Regions from separate parts of the Homo sapiens genome. Here all the other regions are linked to region 1. The links come from fine-mapping of genetic effects on gene expression. A gene starts in region 1. Each other region holds a variant in brackets. All regions are shown on one strand. Distances are from middle to middle.

Evidence for each region. PIP is the estimated chance that this variant, and not a neighbour inherited with it, causes the effect.
Region 2: its variant is fine-mapped to the expression of GGH in whole blood (INTERVAL, PIP above 0.99).
Region 3: its variant is fine-mapped to the expression of GGH in monocytes (Quach 2016, PIP 0.95).

What each region holds. Positions count from the first base shown.
Region 1 is chr8:63,035,472-63,043,662 of GRCh38, reverse strand. It overlaps GGH (gamma-glutamyl hydrolase), which reads left to right and starts at 4,857. Exons shown (of 9, transcript NM_003878.3): 1 at 4,857-5,003; 2 at 7,893-8,007. The coding sequence starts at 4,895. RefSeq lists a silencer at 4,464-4,823.
Region 2 is chr8:62,994,319-63,002,509 of GRCh38, reverse strand. It overlaps a transcript of NKAIN3 not described here. Among named protein-coding and RNA genes, the nearest start is that of GGH, 40 kb to the left of the region's middle. The variant T/A (reference allele first, on the strand shown) is at 4,753.
Region 3 is chr8:63,056,520-63,064,710 of GRCh38, reverse strand. TTPA (alpha tocopherol transfer protein) reads left to right here. Exons shown (of 5, transcript NM_000370.3): 4 at 395-505; 5 at 3,286-5,223. The coding sequence ends at 3,459. Among named protein-coding and RNA genes, the nearest start is that of GGH, 22 kb to the right of the region's middle. The variant G/A (reference allele first, on the strand shown) is at 4,946.

The sequences.
Region 1 (8,191 bases):
AAGAGACTCACTTTAGTAATAAGGACACACATAGACTGAAAGTGAAGGGATGGAAAAGATATTCCATGCAAACAGAAACGAAAAGAGCAGAGGTAGCTACACTTATATCAGACAAAATAGATTTAAGTTAAATACTATAAAAAGAGAAAAAGAAGGCTATTATATAATAACAAAGAAGTTAAATCACCACAAAGACATAACTATTGTAAATATACACCCACCTAAAATCAGAGCACCTAAATACATAAAGCAATTACTAAATGATCTAAAGGAAAAAATATAATTTAATAATATTACAGTAGGGCTCTCCATATTCCATTTTCAGTAATGGACAGATCATCTAGAGAGAAAATCCATAAAGAAACTATGGACTTGCATTACACTTTAGAGTAAATAGACCAAACAGAAATATACAGAACACTGTATCCAATAGCAACAAAATACACATCCTTCTTAAGTGCACATAGAACATTCTCCAGGATAGCCCATATGTTAATGCACAAAACAAATCTTAACAAATTTAAGAGAATTGAAATCATATCAAGTATCTTTTGAGATCACAATGGAATGAAACCAGAAATCAGTAACAGGAGATATCTTGGAAAATACACAAATGTGTGGAAATGAAACAACATGCTCCTAAACAACCAATAGGTTAAAGAAGAAAGCAAATAGAAAATAAAAAATTACCATGAGACAAAAGAAAATGGTAAGACAATGTATCAAAACTTATGGGAGACAGCAAAAGCAATCCTAAGAGGGAAATTCATAGCAATGAACACCTATATAAAAAAAGAAAGGTTACAAATAATCTAACATTACCACTCAAGAAACTAGAAAAATAAGTATAAACTAAGCCCAATGATAGCAGAAGAGGGGAAATAACAAAAATCAGCACAGAAATAAATGAAATAGAGACTAGAAAAACAATAGAAAATATCAACAAAACTAAGTTGGTTTTTTGAAAAGATAAAGTTGACAAACCCATAGCTAGACTAACTAGGAAAACAAGAGCCTACTCAAACAAGATTAGAAAAGAAAGAGGAGACATTACAATATACATTGCCTATATCTACTATAATAGACATATATACACACACAAATCAATATGTGATATACCACATTAATCAAGGATAAAAATCATATAATGATTTCAATACATGCAGAAAAAACATTTGAAAAATCCCAACATCCTTTTATAATAAAACTCTTAACAAGGCCAGGCGCGGTGGCTCACACCTGTAGTCCCAGCACTTTGGGAGGCCAAGACGGGCAGATGGCGAGGTCAGGAGATTGAGACCATCCTGGCTAACACAGTGAAACCCTGTCTACTAAAAATACAAAAAAATTAGCCTGGTGTAGTGGTGGGCGCCTGTAGTCCCAGCTACTCTGGAGGCTGAGGCAGGAGAATGGCGTGAACCTGGGAGGTGGAGCTTGCAGTAAGCTGAGATCACGCCACTGCACTCCAGCCTGGGAAACTGAGCAAGACTCCATCTCAAAAAAAAAAAAACAAAAACAACAACAAAAAAAACTCTTAACAAATTGGGTATAGGTATAGAGGGAATGTACCTCAACACAATAAAGGCTACATATGACAAACCCTTAGCTAATATCATTCTCAACAGTAAAACACTGAAAGCTTTTCCTCTAAGATCAGTGACAAGACAAGTATGCCTACTCTCACCACTTCTTTTCAATATAGTACCGTAAGTCCCAGCTAAAGCAATTAGGCAAGAGGAAAAATTTGAAGCCTAATAGGAAATGAAGAAGTGAAAATATCCCTATTTTCTATGACATGATCTTATATATGAATCCACCAAAAAACTATTAGAACTGATAAATTAACAGTAAAGTTACAGAATACAAAATCAACATATAAAAGTCAGCAGCATTTTTATATAGTAATAACAAATTAAAATGAAATTAACAAGACCATCCCCTTTAAAATAGTAACAAAAAATTAAATACTTAGGTGTAAATTTAATGAGCAGGTAAAAGGCCTGTACACTGAAAACTATAAAACACATAAAAATACAAGTAAATAAGAAAATACAAGCAAATGGAAAGATATCTCATGTTCATGGATTGGAAGAATTAAAATTGGGAACATGTCTATATGACTGACCTACGGCAATATACAGATTCATTGTAATCTCTACAAAATTCCAGTGTCACTTTTTTCACATAAATGTAAAAAAATCCTTAAATTTGTATGAAACCACAAAAGACCCCACATACCTAAAACAATCTTGAGAAAAAAAATCAAAGTTGAAGCCATCATACTCTGATTTCAAGACATATTATAATTATAGTAATTTAATCAAACTAGCATGGTACTGGCATAAAATTACGGGCATTGACCAATGCACTAGGATAGAAGGCCCAAAAATAAACCAATACATATACTGTCAATTGATTTTTGACAAAGGTGCCAAGAACACACAATGGGGAAAGGGCATCTTCTTCAATAAACAGTGTTGGAAAATCTGGAAATTAGACCCTTATCTCTCACCATGAACAAAAATCAACTAAAGTGAATTAAGCAGTTAAATATGAGACCTGAAACTGTAAAATTACTAGAAGAAAACACATGGGAAAAACTTTATGACATTGGTCATTTACATTTAATATTTTACTATTACAAAAAGATGCTCCAAAGAGCATACTTACACATATTTTTTTTGTTCACATGAGCACGCATTAATCTAGGTACACACTTATATCCAGAATGTACTGGGTTACAGAACATTTAGATCTTCACCTTTACCAGATATTGCTTAATTTTTCTCAAAAATAGTTATAATAATTACAATTCCACAAGAAATGCAGAGAACTGTCATTTTACTACATCCTTGACTTATTATCAAAGGCTTACATTTTTGTCAATTTACAGAAACCTGCTTCCAAAGATGGAGGAAGCTGGGAGACCAAAGAGGCTGACCAATCGAATTTCTCAGAAAGAAATACTTAGTAGAGACAAACAGAAGCGACCCCTGCACTTGCCCTCCAGAAAGTATGCTTTATTTAGCAAGCCTCTAGGGTAAAGACAAGTGCAACTAGTTAGCTCTTAGACTATTGTGATCACTGGGGACGTTAGATAAGCATCTTTATGAGGGGTTATATATGTTATGAGCATTGTTTAAAGACCTTTGCTGCAGAACACCTCGGTATGCTGTGGGTCAAACATCAGTCCCCAGGATAGTTTTGCTTCAAGATGGTGTCACTCTTGCCAGGAAACAGGCTGTTTTTCTACACAGTCTAATGGATGTGACATATTATCTTGCATTTTTCTGATGACTACAGAAAGTTTGGTTTGCTTTTCACATTCTTTTTCCATTTTTCTATTGTGTCATTTTTCTTATTATTTCTTCGCATATTTTAGAAATACTTTATATTTTATAACTATATTTTCCAAGTTTGTGCTTTAACTTTAATTTTCTTATATAGTCAATTTTTAATTAACATTTTTATTTTTAATGTTTTATGAAACTCTTCCAACAGCCTAAGTTAGGAAGATATATTTATATATTTTCTTATCAAAGTATAATATTTTGCTTTCGTATTTACATATGCACTTCACCTCGAGTTTATTTTTGTGTGTAACGCCGGGTAAAAAATTTTTCCTATGTGGATAGTCAATTATTCTGGCACCACAAGTTCATATTTACAAGGCTACTTGTCTATTTAATCATGCTCAAAACCAGCTCGGCCCTTTCATGTCTTTCATCACATCCTTTGTTGCTTACCTCTCACCACACCCTTCTACAGAAGCGTTATTTTCTTGTTAAACCAGACTATTCACTGCATTTACTCTTCTTGCAACATGCTAAAATTGTTCCTGTTGTCTCTACGAGTCACGCTTTCTGCCTTTTTTCCTTACTGAATTTAAACCTCTTGTGAAAAAGACTGTCCAATTTACGTTTTCACCCTTAATACTGAGCATTGATGTAGCAGGTTTTCAAATATTCTTGTTTTATGCTGAATTTCAGTTGGCCCTTATAGATGGAAACTTTCACTGAGTACAAGCTATATATCCATGTATTTAGGAACAATCAACAGTTTTAACGAATAGGAACCAGTCATCTTTTCTGCCCCGGTGGATAGGCTTAGTGGTGGTCGGTGGATGGCGCTGACCGCGGTTGATCAGAGGAAGCTGACGCCGTTTGCAGGCGTGGCCTGGGCGTGCCCGCTTCAAAGTAGACGCCCGGAGTTGGCCCAGTTCTGACCCTAGTGATGCGCCTGTGCGTGTGTTCCTATCGCCGTCCCGTCTTCACTTCCTACAGATGCCGCGACCCCCCAAATAGCAAGTGTGGACATTCACATTCAGGGGCACAGGCTGTCCGTACAGCGAACGTTGTCACCATTCCCGGAGATAGGGCCCCGACCTTCAAGGGGGCGGTGCGGTTGGCGCGCAGTTCTCAGGCGCCTTCTAGAATCCCCTGCCAGCCTCCCCGCTGCCTGGTTACCAAACTCGGCCGGGGACACCCAACCTCCCCTCTCGAGGACCTGGGTTGGCCAGCCCAGCTTTGTACGGGTGACTGAAGTCCACATCGACGTAACAGTTGAAAGGGAAGGACGCGGAGACCACCCGGTACCCGCCCCAGGCGTTTCCAGAGTCTCCGCTTAGGCGGCCCGTGGGGGTCGGGGTCGCGGTCGCGGTCGCGGACCGGGGACAGAGCAATGGGGCGGGCGCGCAGCGCCGGCTGCACTCCCAGAGCCTCCCACCGCCGCCCCACGGCCGCCTAGCGCGCGCCGGGACTGCATTTCCCATAGGCCCACGCTGCGGAGCACCGCCCACCCGAGTCTCACGCGAGTGCGCTGCCGCGAGGTGTCCCTGCCGCAGCCCCCGCCCGCCCGCAGAGCTTTTGAAAGGCGGCGGGAGGCGGCGAGCGCCATGGCCAGTCCGGGCTGCCTGCTGTGCGTGCTGGGCCTGCTACTCTGCGGGGCGGCGAGCCTCGAGCTGTCTAGACCCCACGGCGACACCGCCAAGAAGCCCATCATCGGTAAGGAGGCTGTGCGGGGCCGCAGCAGACGGGGAGGAGCTGGGTGTTGGCGCTGGGCGCCTCCCGCCGCCGCGCTCCAGCTGGCGCGTCCCGCCGGGAAAAACCCCCAGATGTGCTTCGCTTTTGGTGCAAGGAGGAACCCGGGCTGGGCACCATTTAGGTCGTACTGAAATGTACCTGGTTGAGGTACCTCGTTCATTCCTTTAGACTCATATGACTCTTAAAGGTGGGAGGGAGGAGGGTGCACCATGAAGAATCCTGCGGATTTTCTTTTTTTGTACACAGCTAGGAATTTCTACTAAAATAAAACATTTCCTTTTCGCACATAGTTGGGAAGTTTTACTCATTTACATCTACAAATTCTGTACATGCATTGCATTCATCAAAATGTATTGATGGCGTATTTAAAATACCAGTGCATTGTAATAGAAAATCAAGAAATTAAGGTATAACTTGGATTTTGTCATGTTCAGTAGCAGAGGACAACAGTGGCTGATATCCTAATGTGAGTTCTATTTGGTGTTAAAATGCAGCCCACAATTTTTCGTTTCCAACATATTTGTGTTTTAAAGAGGTAGTAAAATCAGTCTGTGTTACCAAAACACACATTTGAGACAGGCCCAAGGAAAGCTACCTAGGAGAAATCATCCTGGGGTTAAAATTTGCCCAAAGAAATTTGTGTGTGGACATTAAGATTAGTTTTATTTTGGCTGTAGGATTATGCCTTTCATACTATTTTTTTCTATGAATATTATCACTGTATTCTGTAACTAAACAGAAAGTAGATGAATGTTTTTTCATATAGGTAGTGCCCAGTTTTCAAATGGGTTGCTTACTAATATTTGGAACTTATTTCATAGCTGTTTAACATGGTGATTTGATTCTCCACGAATTAACTCAAGCTGTAATTAATGTAACAGGTTGCATATTGTGTGTCCAGAGAAGAGAAAAAAAAGCAGAGGGGATTCTTCCCCTTTCCTAGAATCAGGGGTAGCCCTGCGTCAAATATTTAAAAAAGGGACTTTGCTTTTGGTCACTGAGATCAGCACAACATCGTTAACTGAGTACCGACTATGTACACAATCTTGCTCTGGGAAGTGCAAAGGATTGAAAGATGACAAGCCACAAAAGTTGTGAGATGGCCTTAAATTATTGGTGGAATTTTGGTCATATTTTGAGGGACAGGGAGAACAGCTTGAGCTCTTTTCCCAGGGATGGGAAAAGTGAATATGCGTGGGCCCAGGGGAAGGGGAGATGTTGGTGGAACTCACTCTGATGTACTTCTCTTTCTGGTACCCTTGTGCTCCCATGATGCCCCATGTCTCCTTTGTGGTACCTCACCCCATGTACCCTGTACCACTCCATTTCCTATGACACTCCTAGTTCTTCGTTCCCTAGCCAAACTTTGTTATTCCTTAGTGAAGATGATCTTACCTACCAGTAAGGAGAAAAAGTTTTACTGAACAAATTTTGGCGTTTGACATGTTAATCTGAATACCTGATGAATGCCAATTGTAAGAAGCTGGGAATACAAAAGTGAGTAATACAGACAACAGCTCTTCCTATCAGGTGGCCTACAGAGACACTGAAAGTGTTCCAAATGCTGAAGTGCTGAATAGGAGTAGGCACAGGTACTCACCCGACAGACGTGTTTTGATGTATACTGGTTGCTATACTCTGCTGGGGCTGGGTTTCACTGGTAAAAGGAGGCCAGAGAGATGGGTGGGGCAGAGCATACGGGTCTTACAGAGTTTATTAAAGTTTAGGGACCCACTGAGGTAGTTAAACAAAGTGGTGACACCTGCTTGCTGATCTATCGCTACCTGATGTCCTTTCCTATTGCTTTCTGCTTTCACTCACCTGGCTCTAATAATATGGATTCCTTGCAACGTGACAGGCACAAATCTGACTCCTGGCCTTTGCACTTGCTATTCCTTTGTCCTGGATTGCTCTTTTCCCAGATATATGAATGTGGTTTACTCTGTCACCTCTCTGAAGTCCTGGCTCAAATGTCATGTTTTACCTTCTCAGGGAGGACTTGCCTGGCCACCGTGTTGAAGAGACTGTCCTTTCCTACATAGATGGGCTCTCCTTCCCCACCGTCTTTCTCTCCTTAGTGCTTACGACCAGCCATCACTCTATATATTATGCCTTTTTGTCTTGTTTATTGTTTGTCCTCTTTCCCCTCCCTGCTACACCCTCGAATTAATGCACACAGGGCAGGGGCTTTTGTTTGGTTCACTCATAGTCATGTGTCCCCAGCAGCTAGTTTGTTGCCTGGCATGAGGTATGATTCAACAGTATATATTGAATGACTGTAGGAATAGGAATGGTGATATGATCCGATTTGCTTCTACATGGGGAGCTGCTTGGAGCTTGGGGGGGTTTCTTAAGAAAAGATATAACAAGACCTTCTAAGAGTCTATTATGATAGTGTGGTGGGGAGAGGGTAGATATTGATAGCTTGGGCTAAGGTAATGTTGGAGAGGTGTGGATGGAAGATGTTTTCACTCCTTTGCTTCGTTGTCAGGGAATCAGTGTGTCTGTGAGTATGTGTGGGAAAGGAGTGACAGCCTTGTAAATTTAAGGATCTATATTCTTTAGATGGATTCTAGGTCTACAGTTGTGTGAAGGCTGCAAGTGCTATTGTAAGCCTTCTTTGGGGGCTTATTTGGCCTCCCTAATGAGGTGAGAGATAGATCTACTTGAAAGTAAGATCAGCCTCCCCTGCTGCTTTCCCATAGGCTATGGGTGGACTTGGAGGAGAGACTTCCTATTTAATTCTGTGGATTGAAATAATAAAATATGATATTTTTGCTGTGATATATTTCAGTTTCTGAGCAAGAAGAAAAGGAATTTGCTTGAAACTAAACTTTTTTTTGTTATTAGGAATATTAATGCAAAAATGCCGTAATAAAGTCATGAAAAACTATGGAAGATACTATATTGCTGCGTCCTATGTAAAGTACTTGGAGTCTGCAGGTGCGAGAGTTGTACCAGTAAGGTATGATTCAGTGTTTTTTTTTTTTTTTTACTCTGTATAAAAAATTGCTGCGTACGGGTGCGGTGCCTCATGCCTGTAATTCTAGCACTTTGGGAGGCCAAGGCGGGTGGACTACTGAGGTCAGGAGTTCGAGACCAGCCAGGCCAACCTGGTGAAGCCCTGTCTCTACTAAAAATACAAAAAT
Region 2 (8,191 bases), 41 kb after region 1:
CACAGGACCCCGGCTGGCTCCCCATGGTGAGCTCCAGCCTGGCGCTTTGATGCCATTGTTTGAACTTTGAGATTTAAAACATTCAAAAAAATATTCACCTTGTGAAGTAGAAAGAAATGTTGCATCATTTTCAAGAGGTAAAAAAGATCAAAGACCAGTTTTTCATGACTTTTCTCACTTGTGAAATTTTGTGAAACAAATGGAAGAAATGTCACCTGCTTCTAGGAAATTTAAGTCTTTTTTTCTTTAATATTTGCCTGTTCTACTTAAGTGTCACCTACCAGAAGTACACATGGTTAAGTCTTCATGTACATGCTTTCCACTCATCTACGTACTTAGGCTGCTGACAGCAGGATAATATTGAGAGCCACACTGAATGTGAGTCTGGAACCATAATCCTTAGGTGAATAAATATCAGTAAAAAGGGAAGGTCAGTGGATACCACCAGATGTGCATTTAATTTCTCAATTTTCTCAAACTCCACTGTGCACAATCAGCAAAAAACTATTGAAAAAGCTATAAAGATAAAAAATAAAATGCTGTATTTTGTGTATAAATGGCCCCTAAATGCAAACCAATTCTTCCATTTGGTGCTCATTTGAAGAGGACTGAGCTGGTTTTGGCACTACCATAAGCAGGCCTTCAGTGCTACTGCACCACCTGAATACACTTTCCTAGTCTGTTTTCTTCTTCATTCTCCTTGGTAACTGCTTCTCACCCTTCCTGTCAAATCTCCGACACCTTTCCTCTCTCCTCACTGTAAGATAATGAATTTCCTTCTGTTAGCTCAGAAATATTGAAAAGGATTAGAGGAGAACCCCCAACAAGCCCCACTGTTCAGTGCTCCCCCACTGTCATCTGTACACATATTCTCTCCCTTCCCTACCTGAAGCTCTGGCCAATCACTTATTGTCATCTGAGACCACCTCCTCTACTGTGCACCAGATCCTTTCCCTTTTCTACTATCCAGGGGCATCACACAAGCAAATGGCCCCCTCCTCCTACATCATCAATATTTACGTCTCTCCAGACTCATTCCGGTAATCACACTTACATACTATAGTACCTCCTACCTTTAAAAGTCCTCTGTTGACTCTGCACATTCTCTCATTATCTCCTTAATTTGCTGTATACCTGTACAATAAACCTTCTCGAAAGAGTCATCTATACTTGATGACTCTCGTTTCTCCCCTCCTATCCTCTCTCAAATCTATTCCACAGGACTTTGGTGTTTTCACCCCTGTGCTCTATAGAAATTACTCTTGTCAAGGTTACCAATGACCTCCAGGTGGCTGAATCCAATGTCCCAAGTCCCCGTGTAACTTGATCCATCATTTGGTGTGGTTGTCCCTCTTTGCTTCTGTAAACACTTTGGCACTAGGAAGACATGCTCCTTAAAATATTTTTATTATTAATATTATTTTTAATTGTAAAATTATAATTGTATACATTTATGGAGTACGATGTGATCTTTTGATGTATGTATACAATGTGGAATGATTAAATTCAGTTAAGTAACATCCATTACCTCATTTACTTATCATTTTTTAAGTGAGATGTCTGAAATTTACTCTCTTAGCAATTTTGAAACATATCACACACTATTATTGGCTATAGTCACCCTGCTGTGCCATAGATCTCAAAAACTTATTCCTCACCCCTGTAATGCTAGCACTTTGGGTGGCCGAGGCAGGCGGATATCTTGAATCCAGGAGTTCAAAACCAGTCTGGGCAACATGGCGAAACCCCGTTTCTACTAAAAATAGAAAAATTAGCCAGGTATGATGGCCCATACCTGTAGTCCCAGCTACTTGGGAGACTGAGGTGGGAGAATTGCTTGAATCTGGGAGGCAGAGATTGCAGTGAGTCGAGATCACGCCACTGCCCTCCAGCCTGGATGAGGAAGCGAGACTCTATCTCAAAATAAATAAATAAACACACAAACAAACCAAAAACCAAGAAACAACAACAACGAAAAACTTATTTCTCCTGCCTAACTGAAATTTTGCTTCTTTTGACTAGTAACTCCCCATTTCCTTTCTCACTTTCCCTCCCCACCCCTGGTAACCACCATTCTATTCTCTACTTTTATGAATTTGGTTTCTTTCGGATTCAACGTATAAGTGAGACCATGCAGTATTTGTCTTTGTGTGCCTCGCTTACTTCGTTTAACATCATGTCCATCAGCTTCATTCATGTTGTCATAAACGACAGAATTTCCTTCGTTTTAGAGGCTGAATAGTATTCCATTGTGTATATATACCACATTTTCTGTATCCATTCATTCATTGATGAACATTTAGGTTGAGTCCGTATCATGTTATCGTGAATAATGCTGCAGTAAACATGAGAGTGCAGCTATCTTTTCCACATATGTATTTCAATTCTTTTGGCTATATATCAAGAAGCAGAATTGCTGGATTATGTGGTGGTTCTATTTTTAGTCTTTTGAGGCACCTCCACACTATTTTCCATTATGGCTGTACTAATGTGTGGTCCTACCAGCAATACATAAGGGGTCCCTTTTCTCTACATTCTGACTAACACCACAAATAAACTCACACATTTATAGTCAGTTGATTTTTGACAAAGGTGCCAAAGACATACAATGGGGAAAGGGCAGTCTCTTCAATAAATGGTGCTGGGAAAATCAGATATCCACATTCAGAAGAGTAAAATTGGATCTCCATCTCACATCATATTAAAAAATAATCTCAAAATTGATTGAAGACTTAAACAGCAGAGCTGAAACTGTAAAACTACTAAAAGAATATATAGGGGGAAGCTTCACAACAATGCTCCCGGCAATAAATTTTTAGATAGGTTCCCAAAAGCACAGGCAACAAAAGCAAAAAATAGACAAATGGGATTTCATTAAACAAAGCTTCAGCACAGCAAAGGAAACAATTAACAAAATGAAAAGATAACTCAAGGATGGAAGAAAATATCTGCAAACCATATGATATAGTTTTGATATTTGTCCCCTCCAAATCTCATGTTCAAGTGTCATCTCCAGTGTTAGAGGTGGGAGATAGCAGTGTTTGTGTCATGAGGATGGATCCATTATAAATAGCTTGATGCCCTCCCCACAGAAATGAGTGAGTTCTCACTCTATTAGTTCACCTGAGAGCTGATTGCTTAAAAGAGCATGACGTCTCTCTTGCTTCCACTCTTGCTATGTGATGTGCCTCCTCCCGCTTTGCCTTCCATCATGAGTAAAAGCTTCCTGAGTCCTTTCCAAAAGCTGAGCAGGTGCCGGCACCATGTTGCTTGTACACCCTGCAGAAGCATGAGCCAAAAAACTGACTACCTTTTCTTCATAAATTACCCAGCCGTGGGTATTCCTTTATAACAATACAAAACAGACTAACACACCATACATCTGATAAGGGATTACTATTCAAAATATATAAGGAACCCAAACAAGTCAACAAGAAAAGCAATAACCCAATTAAAAAATGAGCAAAGGGCCTGCACAGACATTTCTCAAAAGAAAAATTTAAAAAGGCCAACAGGTTCATGAAAAACTGCTCAAAATCACTAATTATTAGGGAAATGCAAATTAAAATCACAATGAGATATCACCTTACACTGTTTGAATGGAAGACACACTTTTTATTCTCTTCTGATATCACTAACTGCTAGTTTTTAGTCTTAGTTGGTTTATCAAGCAGGAAATTTCATCCAGTTTGAGGTGGTGGGATTGTGATGCAGTGGTAGTTTTTAAAACATCTTTCAAGTTATCACTGAAAGACAAATGGACCAACCACCATAGTGAAAGGAAAAAATATGCATGACAATCATCCTCAAGAAAACTGGATGACAGAAAATCTTCCCAAATCACGAATTCATGCATATCAGCCAAACCTCTACCAGCAACAGGACTGGTGAGGGATCAGCAGTTGTATAGTGCAAGTGATAGAAAAATGAAAAGCAGCCAGGAGCGGTGACTCACACCTGTAATCCCAGCAATTTGGGAGGCCGAGGCAGGTGGATCACTTGAGGTCAGGAGTTCAAGACCAGCCTGTCCAACATGGTGAAACCCCGTCTCTACTAAAAATACAAAAATTAGCTGGTGTGGTGGTGAATGCCTGTAATCCCAGCTACTTGGGAGGCTGAGGCACGAGAATCACTTGAACCCAGGGGGTGGAGGTTTCAGTAAGCCGAGATTGGGCCACTGCACTCCAGCCTGGGCGACACAGTGAGACTCCATCCCTCCCTGTGGGGGAAAAAAAAAGAGAGAGAGAGAGAGAGAAAGAAAAATGACTACACTTAGCTTTTGCTTTATGCACTCATTTTACAACTTAACCCTCTGACTAATATTTGACACCATTATAGAAGACAGTGTCCATATGGCCTCTTTCATAAAATAGATGACAAGAACTTGGAGACACAAGGGGATGTAAAGTCTCTGAGCACAAACAGCAAATGAGTGCTGATGTGAATGGCCCTAAACATGAAATATATTGGAAAAAATGTACTGGGCTCATAGTCTCAATTTTAATAATTCAACCCAAATAACATGAGGCTTTCTTGATTCCAACTCAAACCTCATGTCAACCCAGTACCATACACAGAAAAACCCATAAATCTGACTCCAAAAAGCCCTAAGGGGTAATACAAGTCTTTAGTTGAAGTTTTTATTTTTATGAGGTTCTGGAGGAGGGGGCTATTGCATTGTCAAAAATACGCTCAGATTTCATAACACACTCACCATACATTGTTCCTCCTCCTCCTCTTTTTTTTTTTTTT[T/A]TAAAGAAAAGAGCTCATTTATTTGGTAAATTGAAAACTAATAATAGCCCTAATTAAACACTTTACTTCTCTCACTATAGGGCAAAGTAAGAACAAATGAAAGCATGTCAATCCCTAATGTTAAGTGAATTATCCAGAATGATATAATTTACAGCTGGTGGATCTGAACACTGACTCTGAAAACCCAGGCTCTTCTCACTCCATTACATCTCACTACTACCAAGGTGACCCTCAAGTGAATCATGAGTTCCAAATCCTCTTAATTTGTTTTTCTTTATCACTTTTATTTAAGTGCCTTGTGTATTATTGACCTTTTAGTTTTTTAATTAAAACAAACCCAACATTTTTTTTTTCTGTTCACCTCTTCATTCTTACTCACTGCCATGGTTTTAAAATCTCCTCTCAAATTTCTAGTTTTTTGTTTTTTCAGAAGTTAATCCAAATACACTCCCATTATCACCTGCCTGTCTTTATTATCACTTTCCATCTACAATTTACAAATTTTATTTGGAGCTTAATTTCTAGAAATGTGCCAGAAGCAACTTTTTTCCAAAGCTGGGTGGGGTGGGGGAAGGAATTTTTTTCTTAATATTTCTTTCAGTAAACAGTTCTATTGCCTCCCACGCTGGTCTTCATAAGACAGCCTCAGGGAGAACCTCTGCTAAGGCAGTGTGGAAAGGAAGTGTGGCGCTGGAGCCCCCACACAGAGTCCTCACTGGGGCACTACCTAGTGGAACTGTGAGAAGAGGGCCACCATCCTCCAGACGCTAGAATGGTAGATCCACCGACAGCTTGCACCGTGTGCCTGGAAAAGCTGCAGGCACTCCACACCAGCCTGTGAAAGCAGCCGCAGAGGCCATACCCTGCAGAGCTACAGAGGAGGAGCTGCCCAAGGCCATGGGAGCCCACCCTTTGCATCAGCGTACCGTGGGTGTGAGACATGGAGTCAAAGGAGATCATTACGGACCTTTAAGATTTAATGACTGCCCCATCAGGTTTTGGACTTGCATGGTGTCTGTGGCCTCTTTGTTTTGGCCAATTTCTCCCATTTTGGAATAGGAACATTTACCCAATACTTGTACCCCCCATTGTATCTTGGAAATAACTAACTTGCTTCTGATTTTACAGGCTCATAGGTGGAAGGGACATACCTTGTCTCAGATGAGACTTTGGACTTGGACTTTTGTGATAATGCTGGAATGAGTTAAGACTTTGGGGGACTGTTGGGAAGGCATGATTGGTTGTGAAATGTGAAAAGGACAGGAGATTTTGGAGGGGCCAGGGCAGAATGATATGGTTTGGCTGTGTCCCCACCTAAATCTCTTCTTGAATTGTAATCCCCAAGTGTCGAGGGAGGGACCCGATGGGAGGTGATTGGATAATGGAGGTGGTTTCGCCATGCTGTTCTCATGATAGTGAGGGAGCTCTCATGTGATCTGATGGTTTTAAAAGGGGCAGCTTTCCCCTGCGCACTCTGTCTCTCTCCTGCCACCATGTAAGCCGTGCCTTCATTCCCTTTCGCCTTCTGTCATGATTGTAAGTTTTCTGAGGCCTCCCCAGTCATGCAGAACTATGAGTTAATTCAACCACTTTCCTTTATAAATTACCCAGTTTCAGGTAGTATCTTTTTAGCAGTGTGAAAAAAGACCAATACAGACAGCTTCTAGCAATTTTACATCACTTTTATGTTCAATGGGAATATTTACAACATAGGTCAACCTAGTTATCATGTTAAATAGAAGGTGTGGACCAGTGGTTCTCAGTCTTGAGAGTGCATAAGAATCACCTGCAGAGCTTGTTCACAGACTTTTGGGCCCACCCAAGAGTTTCTGATTCAGTCTGAGGTGAGGCTTGAGAATTTGCATTTCTAACAAGCTCCCAGGTGATGCTGATGCTGCTGTTTGGGTACCTCTCTTTTGAAAACTATTATAATGTTTCTAATATTTTAAATATTTTTGGCTTTATGGAAGTATAGTTGAATACAAATTTTATATATCTATGGTGAACAACTTGATGTTTTGATTTACATATAAATTCTGAATTGATTGTCCACTCTTCTTAAAGTTTCTTATGTCATCTAGCCTTTTTTCCTTCCTACCTCTCTAAACTCCCAACCTACCTTTCCTTCTTCCCCCTTGTGTTTACCATTTCCTCCATCTTCCTTCTACCACATATCTCTATGACATTTATGATATAGATCAGTTTAGCTTTTCTTTGTTTTTAGTTCGGCAACAACCCTAGTCCCAGGTCAGCACAACAGACACAGAGCAGTGTGAACAAAGGTCCTCCCTTCCCTCTCAGGCACCAGCTGAGCAGCTTCTACTGTAGCATTCATCTATACCACTGTGTGGATTCTCATTCATCTACTCTCTTGCTTCTTAGCCTTGTTTAATTCCCCAGCCCTTACCATGCAGCCATTTTGAATAAACTCTTGTAAAGTACAGAGGACAGACATTTGAAATATCCACTTCTCACCATTAAGCATGCAACAGGATATGCTTCTGCCACGCCCATCTAATTGGGGTTTATTTGCTTAATATTAAAATGCTCTCAGATATACATAAGCCATCTGCTTTTCCTCCAGATTCACTGAGCCCTGATGCATTAAGCATCTGTAGAGCTATTTAATTTTATGTCATTAAGGATGGGAATGTGCAAATGTAAATACCAATTGGAAAGCTTAAGTAGTTTTTCAAATTTTTCAATCATGCTGTTTACTCTATTATTATTCTGGATTAGTCTACTTTAGGTACAATTTCAGAGTATCATCAAAGTCCTACTCCAATATTTAGATCCCAAATGACAAATTTAATGGCCTTAGTTAACACCCCAATGATGTAGGCTTAATTTTATGGTTCACCTATTTTTGCTATTTACTTTCCTGAGCTTGAGCCAAGCTGAAAAAACTATAAGAAAGCAGAGTCTGATTTTCCATGAAATAAAATGCCACCTTCCTTGTAAAGGGAAAACCTAGATTTTCCTAAGATGACACCTGAAAGGACTCTCCAGATGGAGATGGAGGAAATGTAGGTTACATTTCTCTTCTCTCGGTTAATGCCTTAGTCAAATTCCCTTCAAGGAGATGCTCCTTCTCTGGAATGTTCCAGTTAAAATGAGGAGCTGAAACTCTGCTCTCAGTAGCCTTTGACACTGCTGGTTAAAGACCATAACATTTAATGAATGAATGAATGAATGAATGAACTTGAAGTGTCCAAACAGGTTTTATGAGGAAAGCCTAAAATGTCTCCTTCCTTGATCTGTGGTGCCTAGCCACTCAATCCTTTTTCCCAGAGATGACCAGTGCAACTGATTTCTTTTACATCATTCCTGAGACATTCTACACTTAGACAAATCATCATACAATCCCTTTCACACTTTTCACGAACATGGTGGCATACTGCACCTACTTCTGCATGTGGCTTTGCCCTTTACCCTATCT
Region 3 (8,191 bases), 21 kb before region 1:
TATTGTGCTAGTCTTTCAATATTTGTGATTTTTTTTCTCAAAATAAACATTTTTTGGGAAAAAGTTAAATATAAATTTCCAAATGACTCATTGGTTCGTTAAAAGAACATCTATATGTGATGGGAAAGGAATTTTCTGGTGAAAGTGTGCAGATATTTTGTAAAATACTTTGCCAAATCTATAAGGAGAAACCTTTTTAGAGATCTTTACTTAATCTAGTGACAGTGAACTGTAAGCCAGGCTTTTGTGCTGATGGAATAAATAATTTTGAAGATAAAATCACACACTTTAGATATTTCCATAAGCTTAGCAAGTGTTCAAAGAAGAAACTTGACATTAGGTATCAGATTGTAATATTTATGTTTTGTTATTAAGATTTTTTTATTTTCAAAAGGATTCATTTCCATTGAAAGTTCGTGGCATCCATTTGATAAATGAACCAGTAATTTTCCATGCTGTCTTTTCCATGATCAAACCATTCCTGACTGAAAAAATTAAGGAACGGGTGAGTAAAATATATTCAAGTCTGTGTTCCTCTACACCAAACATTCCAACCCTTTTTAATTTAAGGATTGCTTTATCATCTTTCCTCGTACCTGCCCATCTATATCATTAGCCCAATATTTTGAATATTTATCTAACAAGCCAACTAAAAAAAAGTAAATTAAAATTTACTTTTAATTTATAAAAATCAAGTATATTGGTTGTAAGACTGTGGGGTAACTGGGCTTTTCATACACTGCTGGTTGGAATGCTTAATGGTATATTCCTATAGAGGGCAGTGTGGCAAAGACATCAAAATCACTGTCTTGAATTACCTATACCTAAACAAAATTACATATGCTAGAGGAGTCACAGCAGCAGAAGACTGAAAACCAGGAAGTGTTCACCATTAGGGCATTGGTTAAATAAACATCTACACAACAGAAAACAACGAGATTGCAGGATGTTTTGTAAACTGAAATAAACAAAATGTGGAATAGTGTTTATGGCATGCTACCTTTTGTATACAAAGGGGAGAAATAAGAATATATTTCATAAATTTACATTAAAAGGATATACAAAAAATAATATAAGTGGATATCTATAGGGAACAAGAGAAGAGGTGTGAACTACAGTAGATGAGAATAGGTTTGGGAGCAAGATCTCTCACTGTGTATCTTTTATCTTGTTTTGATTTGTAACCATATGAATTTATTATTAATGCAAATAAAAATAAACATTTTTCTTAAACAGTGAAGCCTACTTAACGGTTTCAGTGTAACTGAGAACCACGGTAACTGAGGTATATGACTTAATGTCATGCTAGTTAGAGCAAAGATACTGGATTTTTTCTTCTTTACCTAGCCTATGGAGCCTTATCTCAGAAAAAGCATCTCATATATCTTAGACTTTTTGAAAGGTTGAAAATAGAGTCTGCGTTCTCAAGAATGGCAACCATTCTAAACTAATCTGTAAAGAAGAATTTTTAGAGCATCTATTTAGACAAACATTGGCATCATCTAATGCCTTGAACACAAAACAATTTGTAAAGGTTTTAACAGTTTAAATCTAAAAAATCACTGAAATGTCAGCAGTGATAATATAAACTGTAATAGCACATTTGGAATTTTAGAAACGATGTTCTTTCATATTAAGAAAATATAACATCTTATACCTGGTCAGAAAGTTATGACCCTAGAGCTTCTTTAGAGGTTATGCAGTGGATGCTTCTGTTTGTCTTCAAGAACCACCCTTAAATTGCCTGCTTTAGCAAAAATGGCCACTTTCAGCTACTTTTCATTCTAGTATTTTTATACAAATCAATTTTGTTTGTTCATTTTTTTCTCTCTTCAGTGTAACTTGATAATATCTGGCTTCCCTCTGTTTAATTCTTAGAGATCTAAAAATAACTATTTCTATTTTGAGTAATATTTTAGATAAAAACAAAAACAAGAATAAACTGAACCTAAGAAATAGGAGAATATGGAGAAAAAAGCAAAAGTAAAAAGTTGAGAAGTTAGGGGAAGGATGTCAGTGAAAGTTAGTTGACGGGAAACAGACTTGCCAAAATAGGGAGAAAAAAACTCTGATCCAGCCACTTTTTTCCTTTTTAACTTTTTGGCAATGCCCCATACATTTTCTTATTTTGCCCCTTCCTGAGGAGATAGAATTTCTTCTCAATTACCTGATAATATTTTACATATTTCAGAAAAAATTAAAGATTGGCTTTGTGAGTTTCCTAAGTGAGTATAGGAAACTCATTTCATCCATCAAACCTCATATCCCAGCACATAATAGATGCTTATTAAATGATTGTTGAATACATAGAGGAACATTTTGCCCTAGAAAGTGAAAAAAGGTTATTTATTTATTTTAGCAGGTATGCTTTTGGTTCAAGTTTCTACGGCTTTCTCTTAACTTCAGGGCATTCTATGATCAATTTTATAGTTTAAAATATTTGAAAAGTTAAGGTTCTCAACTATCATAATTGTTTTTTAATACTTTTTTAAAATTTGACTTTTTAATTCTTTTAATTCTTTTTTTTTTTTTAGACAGGGCCTCACTTTGTGCAGTGGCACGATCTTGGCTCACTGCAACCTCCACCTCCTGGGCTCAAGCAATCCTCCTGCCTCAGCCCACCAAGTATCTGGGACTACAGTCCTGCACCACCACGCCCAGCTAATTTTTGTATTTTTTTTGTACCAGCCATGTTGCCCAGGCTGGTGTTGAACTCCTGAGCTCAAGTAATCCACCTGCCTTGGCCTCTCAAAGTGTTGGGATTACAGGCATGAGCCACTGCACCCGGCTGTCTCTTAACTTTATACTAACTAACAGTATCCATCGACTGTACCATATAAATTGTTTCTCATAGATTTAATTGTGTGCTCAGATATATGCTTCTACTTAATATGAATTAGTACCAGCTAGTACATTTTTATCGTGTATAGAATAGTCCCAAGGTATTAGTTTGGTAAGAATCACTTGCACATAAGGGAATAGAATTTATAAAATAACTTTATTTAATCTTTAAAAATTTACTTATGAAAGAGGAAAATAACTTTTTATAAATTTTATGCAGTTATAAGAATGCAAATCCAAGAAACAGTAAGGTTATTAGATCCACAGTAATACAACCTAAACATAAGTAAAATTATTAGATTCATAACCAGAGGAATAAAGGATGTGGTATCTATTTATACACTCCATTTTAGAAGTTATTAGAATACCTTGTTTTATGAGGTTGATTTTCCACTGGAAATGCATCTAATGCGGTTTCCTTCTAAAGTGTTTTGGCTATTTCAGATTCACATGCATGGGAACAACTACAAACAAAGCTTGCTTCAGCATTTCCCAGACATTCTTCCTCTGGAATATGGTGGTGAAGAATTCTCCATGGAGGACATTTGTCAGGAATGGACAAATTTTATAATGAAGTCTGAAGATTATCTCAGCAGCATTTCTGAGAGCATTCAATGAGAAGTTATGTCATGTGAATGGCTTCCTAACTAAAAATACATGAGTGATATCCAACCTGGTTAAATGAATGAAAGAAAAGGAGCAAATCTTTTAAACTAATGCTTGCCTGAACTTTAAAAATGTAGAAATCTTCTGACATGAGCAACACAGGTGTTTGGAAAGATTTTTTACTTTTTAAATGCTTTTTTCTCTACTTTTGAAGTAATTAAATGTCAGTACATTTTAAGAGCATAAAAATCGGCGATTTTGTACTTGAAGAGAACATGAAAGTTATTGCTAAAGTAGCTGCTCATGTGCATCTTTGTATGTTTCTAGAAAGTTATATTTTAAACAAGTTCTCTGATTAAATTGGTTTAGAAAAAAATTTAGAAATATTCCGCTTAAAAATACTAGCACAAGTCAGCTAATGATAAAAAAATTAACACTTGTTTTAAGTGGATGTCAGATTAAATTATAATTCATTATAATTAAAATCTGAATAGAGTTTTATGGTTATTCCTGTGGACCAGCAAGACATTTCATCTCAGGGAAATTTTATTTTAGTATATTAACACGATAGAAACTTTTTTTTTTTTTTTCAGACAGAGTCTTGCTCTGTCGCCCAGGCTAGAGTGCAGTAGTGAGATCTCAGCTCACTGCAACCTCTGCTAGGATTACATGTGCACACCACCACTCCTGGCTAAGTTTTGTATTTTATATAGAGATGGGGTTTTGCCACGTTGGCCAAGCTGGTCTCAAACTCCTGAACTCAAGTAATTTGCCTGCTTCGGCCTCCCAGAGTCCTGGGATTACAGTCGTGAGCCATCGCGCCTGGCCGTGATAGAAACTTTCAGCTGAGGAGTCTATATGCCATACTACTCTATGTGGCATCTTTAGGTCTCTGTGAAATCATGTTGATGTAATTGATTAACAAAAATAATTTAGAAAATACGTCAGGCACAGTTGATGGCTTCTCAATATCTGCTTTGCATTTTTAAACAAATCAAGAATGTAATTTTAACTTTTGCTTATGGTCATTCTTATGACTACACGGAAAGGGATGGAATCATACTTACTTGTCTTATACATGGACTGTTTTTAGTTAACAATAACGTAACTACACAAAGGAAAGGAAATGTTTACATTTTAAAAAATTACTGTCAATTACATCTGGTATTTTTCAGATTATGCATAAAATAATATGAGTTTGACTATTGTATCAGAATATTTTAATCAAATCCTGCAATTTATATTAACTTAAAAAAACATCTGGTAAAGACTGGGTGTGGCAGCTCACACCTGTAATCCCAGCACTTTGGGAGGCCGAGGCTGGATGGATGATTGCTTGAGCGCAGGAGTTCTAGACCAGCCTGGGCAATACAGGGAGACCCTGTCTCTATTTCAAAAATAAATAAATAGGCCCCGGTGTGTGATGTTCCCCTTCCTGTGTCCATGTGTTCTCAAAAAAAATTAAAAAATAAAAATAAAAATAAATAAATAAATAACC[G/A]GTAAAGATGTACTGTTTCTACTGCAGTTTATAATATTTCATTTATTAAGAAAGATATCATCTCAGCTTTCAAATTCAACATAGCCCTCAATTTATGACATAAGTTTTATACTTAGTATTTTATAATTTCTTAATTTTGTTATAAACTTGAAAATGTAGAATATGGGGTCCAAAATCTGTTGAACATTTGTTCAGCTAGTTAGGTTTCAACATTAATCATATACATTAATAGTATCTTTATGTAAGGATATGTGAAGGGTGTTTTTCTTTATAAGAAAATTAGTTTAATCAGGTGAGCTGATACTTAGGATTATACATATATCTATGATAAAATTGAAAGTAATTGTGGTTGTTCTTTAGAGAACGTGTTTTGATTTTGACTTAGTATTGGGAAGCTAACAACATTATAATTTTTATTAAAAAACTGGACCCTGGGCCGGGCGCGGTGGCTCACGCCTGTAATCCCAGCACTTTGGGAGGCCGAGGCGGGCGGATCACGAGGTCAGGAGATCGAGACCATCCCGGCTAAAACGGTGAAACCCCGTCTCTACTAAAAATACAAAAAAATTAGCCGGGCGTAGTGGCGGGCGCCTGTAGTCCCAGCTACTTGGGAGGCTGAGGCAGGAGAATGGCGTGAACCCGGGAGGCGGAGCTTGCAGTGAGCCGAGATCCCGCCACTGCACTCCAGCCTGGGTGACAGAGCGAGACTCCGTCTCAAAAAAAAAAAAAAAAAAAAAAAAAAAAACTGGACCCTGCCTGTTTTCTAAAAAACACTTTAAAGTATTTTAAAATAAAAGCATACTATTTAAAATTGTATAATTAAAAATAATAAAAGAACAAAATCACTTAAAAAGAATAAACAGTGTCAATAACAAAAAACCTCTGGCTTACCCAACTTTTGTTTCTAGAAGATTTATATCAATCACCAGTTCCACTTCATTTATTTTTGTTTATTTCAAACACTTTCTTATGACTCTGTGGAGGAGTGATTAGTTTAGTACCCAAATAAAGGATAACATTTTAAAATGTCCTTTAAATTAGATTTTTTTGGTGATAGGTTCCATAGTAAATAGAATTAAGATAAGTCAGTTAATCTAGGCATATTTTATGATGGAACTTTGAAGTGTTTATAAATGAAACAATTCACTGAAGAACATTAAAAGAAAATTGAAATGAATGGTCAAATTAATAAAGTGTCAAAGCAAATAATTGTCTAATTGTCTATATTACTTTAGTGATTATGCCAGAAGTGCCTTTTAAAAGGTTAACTGTATTATGTGCTCATTGTGTTACTCAACTGCACGTAATTTATTTGTTTTAATATTGTTTGAAAGAAAATAAACATCTTTCACATAAACCATAGTGTACAAGTTATTTTTTAATTTTAAAATGTAAATATGAGGCATTCTTTTTCAAAAACTGCTTTTCCTTACAGAAAAAAAAATCTTAGCACATCTATTTGTCCATCACTCCAGTGTCAGTTTTTTCTTCATAAGTTTAATGACAGGCTGGTATTCCAGCTGCTTAGTTCAACACCGTATTTCTCTAATGTCTTTCGCTGTACATAAAGGGGACCACAAACTAATTACTAAGCCATGGATAGTCAAGAAGTTAAAAGTTTTAAGCAAAAAATGCCATAGTTTGCCACTTAATCAGATAATTTTATTTTCTTTAATAGACTTCATTTTTTAGAGCAGTTTTTGGTTCTCAGCAAAATTGAGCATGAAGTACAAGATAGAGCCATTTAATTTCGAAACAATATGCTATTAGCCTAGATCATGATTTCATTTGTCAAACTAGATTTTTCTTACAGAAATAGCACTGAAGTCCTATTACAAATATCTTTATCTTTGCCAATCACCTAAATTAAGACTGTAGATCATAAAACATGTTAGACATATAACCAAGAACTCCAGCCAATTAGTCAGATGGTATTGTCTGAAACACTCTTTACTGGCCTTATATATTGAATTTTGCCATACCTAGATGCTGTGGAGGAACTAGAAATGAGAGCAATAAAATTAGGATTGGCAGCGGTACAATCCTACGACTTTTCTGGTTAGCAAGGACATACACCATCCTCCTCCCACACCCATACCTAGCACTCAACTGACCTCTTTCTGAGACAATCATATTAATCTGTTAAATATCTACTTTTGATAACACTGTAGAGTGAATTAAGTACTACTGACTAGGAAAATTAAACATATGCTACCTAGGAGAGGGAAAAATATACTCCAAATAGCTAGCTAAAGTGCAGTATATTGTAAGGGCCATTAAAGTGATTCCAATAAAGTGTTTTGAGAGTTTAACAGAAGGAAAGATAATTTCCACTTGGGGTATTGAGGATGTGTTCTTAAAGGAGGTATTATCTGAAGCAAAGCCTTTAAGATAGCAATGAAAACTGAGGAGAAGAAGGATACTTAAAGAAAATAAATTGTGTGAGCAAAGACTTAGAGATCAGAAAGAGTAAGGCATGTCTGAGAAACAGTAAATAGCCCTATATTTTTATGGCATGAGTTGTAATGTCTTCTTTTTCATTTCTGAGTTTGTTTATTTGGGTTTTCTCTTTTGTTCTTAGTCTAGCTAATGTTTTGTCACTTTTGTTTATCTTTTCAAAAAACCAACTTCTTGTTTTATTGATCTTTTGTACTTTTTTGTTCTCTATTTCATTTATTTCTGCTCTGATTTTTATTATTTCTTTCTTTCTACTAATTTTAAGTTTTATTTGTTGTTGCTTTTCTGGTTCCTTGAGGTGCATCATTGGGTTATTTATTTGAGATTTAAAGGGAGAGATAGACCCCAATATAATAATAGCTGGGGACTTCAACACTTTACTCATAGCATCAGACTGATCATCTAGACAAAAAATCAACATAGAAACATTGGATTTAAGCTGCACTTTAGAGCAAATGGTCTTAATAGACATATACAGAACATGTCATTCAACAGCTGTAGAATGTATATTCTTCTCATCAGCATGTAGAACATTTTCCAGGATAGACCATATGTTACGTGACAAAACAAGTCTGAACAATTTTTTTTTAAATCATACTAAATCTCTTTTCAGCCCACAATGGAACAAAACTAGAAATCAGTAACAAAAAAACCTTTGGAAACTGTACAAATACCTGGAAATTAAACAATATCCTCCCGAATGACCTATGGGTTAATGAAGAAATTAAGAAGGATATTTAAAAATTTCTTGAAACCAATGGAAATAGAAACACAACATACCAAAATCTG